Linked DNA regions of Homo sapiens. The protein of the gene in region 2 purifies or fractionates together with the protein of the main gene of each other region. This does not show direct contact. Each region holds a gene or a part of one and is shown on either strand. Other genes may lie near its edges.

Region 1 (3,500 bases), on a different chromosome or scaffold from region 2:
AGAATACAGAACAGCTCTAACACCCCAAAGAATTCCTGCATAGTACTACTTTGTAATCAGATCATTTCTCTATTCCTATGTTCTGGCACCCTTGATCCTCTTTTCTTATTGTTTTGCCTTTTCCTAGAATGTCATATAAATGAAATCATATAGTATGTAGTCTTTTGATTTTTTTAAATCTTTTCATATGTAGTCTTTTGAAACAGGTTTGCCTCTCAGGATAATGCATTTGAAATTCAGATATGTTACTGCGTGTCTGAATAGTTTGTTCCTTTTACTACCAAGTAATGTTTCTTTTTTTTTGTTTTGTTTTGAGATGGAGTCTCACTGTCGCCCAGGCTGGAGTACAGTGGTGCAATCTTGGCCCACTGCAACCTCTGCCTGCCAGGTTCAAGCAGTTCTCCTGCCTCAGCCTCCCGAGTAGCTGGGACTACAGGTGCACGCCACCATGCCTGGCTAATTTTTTGTATTTTTAGTAGAGATGGGCCATGCTGGTCTCGAACTCCTGACCTTGTGATCTCCCCACCTCTGCCTCCCAAAGTGTTAGAATTACAGGCATGAGCCACCATGCCCGGCCTAATATCTCATTTTTTATGGGTATACCACTGTTTATTTACCTACTGGTGGACTTTTGAATTGTTTCCAATTTTTGGCAATTATGAATAATGTTGCTCTAAAATTTATGTATAGGTTTTTGTAAGAACATTTTTTCATTTGTCTAGGACAAATACCTAGAAGTGGGGTTACTGGGTTTTATGTTTGTTTAATGCTTATAGTTGTATTAAACTGCCAGACTTTTTACCAGAGTGTCTACCATTTAGTATTCCTTCCAGGTATATATGGGAGTTCCAGTATTATGTTTTCTTAGAAGAAAACATAGGAGAAAGTCTTCATGGCCTTGGGTTAGACAAAGAGTTCTTAAAGACATTAAAAGCATGATCCATTAAAGAAAAAAATTAAAGATTTTTGTTGACAAAGGACATTCAGAGAATGGAAAGATAAGGTTGGATGTATTTATAAATCATATAGCTAGCAAAGGACATGTATCCAGAAATATATAAAGAACTCTTAAAAACTTTAAATAATAGAATCTTTTCTTCAAATAAAGCCTTACCTGGAGACAAAAACAAATAAGTGAAAACAGAATTGCTCTCAAGTCAGGATAGGGAGACCGAACCCCTTCTATTTCATCTTTAGCTTGATGATGACTTTCATCATCTTTCCCTCACTTTCTAACCTCTTCCCCTCTTCTTTTGACTTGTAAAACATTTAAGTAAACATCCCAGTGATGAAGCATTTGTGGTTTTGTGCTAATTTAGAATTTTGTTCATTTTCTCATATGTACATTTATGGTGGCCAAGGATCATTTATACTTTAAAAAAAAAAACAGGCTGGGTGCGGTGGCTCACGCCTGTAATCTCAGTACTTTGGGAGGCTGAAGTGGGTGGATCATGAGGTCAGGAGATCGAGACTATCCTGGCTAACATGGTGAAACCCTGTCTCTACTAAAAATACAAAAAAATAGCTGGGCGTGGTGGTGGGCGCCTGTAGTCCCAGCTACTTGGGAGGCTAAGGTAGGAGAATGGCATGAACCCGGGAGGCAGAACTTGGCAGTGAGCCGAGATCGCACCACTGCACTCCAGTGTGGGCAACAGTGCGAGACTCCACCTCAAAACAAAAAAACAAAAAAAAACAACAAATATCTTAAGCCTTGTCTGCTTAGTTTCTTTTATTTTTTTAATACTTATGCTCTTTTGAAGAGTATTTTGAAAATTTTCAACACAGTAATTTTTACAGTTTAAGGATTCTAGAGATCATATACAAGTAAGATTGACAAGACAAAAAAAGATTCCAGAGAAAAATGTTAAAGGAGCTGCTTTGATTTTTTTTTAATGTTTTTCAATCCTAGCTCAGTCTGCATCTCCAAAGAGAAAAAAACAGCACAAGAAATACAGAAGTGTTATTTCAGACATATTTGATGGAACAATCATTAGTTCAGTGCAGTGTCTGACTTGTGACAGGGTGAGTATGAGGGTATTAGAATACACAGAAAATTCGTGTCAAATGATTTTTAAAAATGTGACAAGATGATGTGAAAAGTTTAATTCCTTCTCTTTGCTATTGATGAGCATACATGCATTTATTGTGTTTACATCAACACAAATTTGATTCTAGGTGTAGAATTTTTTTTGGAAGTAGCAGCATCCTGTTTAAAGGATGGTGACCCATCATTGGACAGGCACATATTATCCTTCGTCATCTATTTTGGTTACATATAAAGGTGAGAAGTTGCTCAGCAACAAGAATTGGTAACACCTGCATATTCTCCCAGGCTGATGAAATTTGTATACTGGGAATCTGTTGATATTCACAGGTACAAAGCTGTGAATGTATCTCTTACATTTGGTCATATATGGTTTGTAAATATTTTTCCATGTTTAGGATGGGACTCAGATACTAAAGGTAGTATCAAATTCATAGACAATAACAAAGCATACATTAAAATCATCATGAATTTTTTAATAACACTTCTTCAAAGTTTCTTTGAGCTTTTCTTAAGTACAGTTTTACTTTAGTGCAATGATGAATATGAAATAACATCTCAAAAACAAAAAGAAGATTTCAATTATTGTGTTAGAATCTCAAGTCAAATCTAAGAACTTTCAATCGGGTCGTTTTAATGTAGGTTATTTTGGTACTAAATATTTAAGTGGAATTATCAGGCATGTTTTTAGCTATTTAAAATTAGATGCCAGATTTTGTCTCACCCTTTTAAAAAAATATTTTAAAACTACCATCAAAGGTCAATTTTCAAAAATAAATACAATAGTGCTTAAGAGTTTGGACCTCAAGATGCAGTGGCTGGATTTGGGGTGTTTAATGCTGCAGTGTCTGTGATTGTAATGGGGATGCTAATACTACTGCACAGGACTTACGTGAAGATACCTGGTACAGAGCAAGTGTGTTTTGTTTTTTGTTTTTGTTTTTTTTTTTGCTATTATGACTATGAAAGCAGTTCAATTTGCGTGTTTTTTTTTGTTTTTTGTTTTTTTTGCTTATTTAAACATGCTTTGATCTTTAGAGTCTAAAATCTAACCTTGGAAATGTTTTACTGCATTATGTTCATCCCATTTTTAAAACACAAAACAATTTTAGGTGTCTGTAACCCTCGAGACCTTTCAAGATCTGTCCTTGCCAATTCCTGGCAAGGAAGACCTTGCTAAGCTGCATTCATCAAGTCATCCAACTTCTATAGTCAAAGCAGGATCATGTGGCGAAGCATATGCTCCACAAGGGTGGATAGCTTTTTTCATGGAATATGTGAAGAGGTATGTATTTATTTTCTTTGTATTACATGATTGTTAAACCTGCTGTTTCTGCTGTACTGGCAGAACACTTCCTTTTTTTTCTATCAATGATGTTTCAGGTTTGTTGTCTCATGTGTCCCTAGCTGGTTTTGGGGTCCAGTAGTAACCTTGCAAGATTGTCTTGCTGCCTTC
Region 2 (3,500 bases):
ACAGACTGAGAGAGGCTAAATTACTTCCCCACAATCCTACTGCTAGCAATCAAAAGGTAACATTCAAAGCCTATCTACTACCAAAACCTATGCTCTGCCTCCTTCATACAAGTGTCAGCAAAGAACCTGCTGTTAGGCAACGAGCCAGGAATTAGGCAATAAAAGTAAGCAAAACAACAGACGATGCCCCAGCCCTCATGGAGTTTACTGAAGGCAAACATAATAAACAAATATGTACACAAATATATAATTACAAATGGTGGCAAACTGCAGGGGCTCTGAGGACACATAACAGAAGGATCTCATCTATTCTGGGGGGAAGCGGGGGAAATGTCAAGGTGGACCCTAAAGTAAGCAATGCTTAAGACCTAAAGTGAAACTGCTGTACCCTAACATAGATTACATATGACATATATATCATGCATATACAGAATATATAGATGTGAAATATATTGTTTGAATTATTTGATAACATTTATAACACATAGCTTGAGACATACATGATTCCACCTATAATTAATAACTTGATAAAAATATTTTTGTAAATATTTTTTGTAAATTTTTCAGTATTTGGATTTGGATTTCTTATATATGTGTACACATATATATGTATATACATATATACTTATATACACTTGTATTATATATGTGTATATAATATATATTATATATTATATACATATGTGTATATTATAATATATAATATATATTATATACATATGTGTATATTATAATATATAATATATATTATATACATATGTGTATATTATAATATATAATATATATTATATACATATGTGTATATTATATATAATATGCACTATGTGTGCATATATATGCATATTATACACTATATATGTGTGTGTACATATATGTATAGTATAATATACATATATGTATGTGTACACATGTGTATATGTGCGTACACATGTGTATGTGTGCATACACATGTGTGTATATATGGGTGTACACATGTGTGTATATATGGGTGTACACATATGTGTGTATACAGATGGGTGTACACATATATGTGTGTGTATGTGTGTGTATATATGGTGTACACATATATGTGTGTATATATATCAGGGGAAAATGAGTTCCTTTCTTTTCTTAAGGACTGCTCTATGTGAAAAATTTTAAACACAGGTTACTGTTTCAGAGAAAGATCAACAAATTACCTAAATTATTCACATAATGCCAATCCCAATTTTACTCTAAAATTAATCCTAGATTTTAAACTGATCTTTACAATTCTTGTAGTTTAAGGATAAGCAGCCAAGAGAACAACCTTGAGAGACAAGCATAGATACATTCTTACTCTTGCCTTCGGGTAACAATGCTGTCTTCAAGAAGTAAGTATTGCCGAGCTTCTTCAAAATTCCATTTGATCATTTAGTAGACAAATAGTGTACTTGTTCTCCTGACTCAGTCTCAAGGGACAAGGTACAAAGTATAACAGCATCCATTTTATTTTGGGTAGAGCTATGCTTTTAAAACTGAGGGTCACAACCTATTTGTGGGTAATAAAATCAATTTAGTAGGTTATGATGAACAATTTTTAATAGAACAGAATAAGAATTATTTGAGTATCATATATTGCAAGGTCAAATACTGTTTCAAAATTGTTTTCTTTTGGTTATAAGGCACACACACACTGTCATAAAATATATTTCTTACTGTAGGTCACGACCATAAACACAGTTTCAAAACCACTACTACAGACCAGAAGTTAGAATCTTACTGTCTTCTTGATGTACAGACCGACGCCTGAAAATAACAACGTATCTGAAAATTTCTGAGCATTGGCTCTTCTTTATTCTGCGAGCAAGAAATAAAAGTTTCACGGGGGAAAAACGTTGTGGATGATGAGTTTTAAGAGGATTTCATATTTTCTATTTGCATTTTTTTCTAAAAACAAATCTTTCATCTCGTTTGATCCTGTTGAGTCCAATTCATCCAGAAAATACAGCATTTCACGGTTGCCAAGTAACTGTGCACATGGGCTTAAGCTGGGCTATGTATGGCAGGTGGCTGGAGAACACCTTGGCTTTGGACCTTGACCAGGGGAGCACATGGCGATGCGAGGGTAAGGGAAGAAGGGCTTGCAGATCTGGAGCCTAAGCTGTCAGCTGGGAAAGCTGCAGCCCCTCTAGGCCATTTTTCTCATCTCTAAAACGAGACGCACAGCCCAAATGATCTTATAAGAGCTCAACTCTTGTAATTCTATAAGCAATGGCTAGGAAGTTGGATGAAATGAACACTAAGCGTCCTACCATCTGTAAGAACTTGTATTAGCAAATGTTTAAATCCTTATCTGAGTAAGAACTAAATACTTAACAGATACAACTAACTAACTCCAAAAATTGTGTGAGAAAACCAAGTTATATCTACATTTTTATGTTCCCATATAAAAAGACTTTAGGATTTTAAATAAAATAAATGTACTATCGTCCAAAAGTTCCCCACTGAAACACTAAAAAGGTTGACAATTTCTATTAATTTGACAACTCTAAACTAGCTGTCCTCTAACAAGCCCTATTCAGAAAGTTCTACATTTCAGCAGTATCTTCAAATAGCCTGCTCACACACAAAAAAGCTTCCACTGAAAACATCAAATCTGATCAGCTTTAAAGCTTAGTATCTACTTTTCTCCACAGAAGGCTTATTTTGTCTGAAATGAAATCCATGTATGAAATGCTTTTGATAGACTGCCTAATATATTCTTAATAGCTTTCCCTGCTAATTTATAAACACGTGGCATCCATATGACCCATGAAACCAATACTGCTGAGGTAGGTCTGCAAATTGCAAAACATGAACGTTCTTGTAATTCAAAAACAAAACTTCATGTTGCCTGCTAGTGAATAAATATTTAAAGGCAAAGGCACTCGATTACACAGTGTGAGATCTGCAGGGGTCTAAAAATGCACCTACCATACTCACTGCCAGTGGAATAATGTATCTTTTAAAATATAGACATTTCAAGTACACCGCTTAAAATGGGGAAAGCATTTAAACACAATATACATGTTGAGAACACAGTTCTAGATTTTAAATATTTCTATTAATGTAAAAGACCACCCTAATGTAAGTCCTGTGTTTGTTTTGTTACTGTTGGAGTTGTTTCTAATCTACATACTCTATTACCCAAGCTGAAGTAAATAGTTTTTTAAAAGCAGCTTGCTACAGCCAGCTCAGATAAGCCAGCTCAGATACCAAAAATAAATAAAATCATTTAAAATTTGGCAACAATATTCTCTTTATATCACATGGACTCTCATCAATTTCAATTTTAGTAACAATTCAACGTAAAGAAACTTAAAATTATAAATGAGCTAGTTAAGAATTTAGGCTCTCTGATTAGCTTTTTATTTTAAAATAAAATGTGTAACACGTTCATCATAAAAAGTTTTAGGAAAAATTAGTATGTATTTTTTATATCTTTTTTCTATGCACATACTTTTTAAAATGCGATCACACTGAGTATTAGGGTTTTAAGA

The links. Proteins that work in one complex are often made in the same cells at the same time.
Region 1: the proteins of MAP3K4 (region 2) and USP33 purify together in Homo sapiens (co-immunoprecipitation; one large-scale study listed by IntAct). This does not show direct contact.

What each region holds. Positions count from the first base shown.
Region 1 is NC_000001.11:77,721,853-77,725,352, reverse strand, and holds part of USP33 (ubiquitin carboxyl-terminal hydrolase 33), read left to right. Parts: intron 1-1,909; coding exon 1,910-2,022; intron 2,023-3,156; coding exon 3,157-3,329; intron 3,330-3,427; coding exon 3,428-3,500. UniProt on the Homo sapiens protein: Deubiquitinating enzyme involved in various processes such as centrosome duplication, cellular migration and beta-2 adrenergic receptor/ADRB2 recycling.
Region 2 is NC_000006.12:160,998,269-161,001,768, reverse strand, and holds part of MAP3K4 (mitogen-activated protein kinase kinase kinase 4), read right to left. Parts: intron 1-3,500. UniProt on the Homo sapiens protein: Component of a protein kinase signal transduction cascade. Activates the CSBP2, P38 and JNK MAPK pathways, but not the ERK pathway. Specifically phosphorylates and activates MAP2K4 and MAP2K6.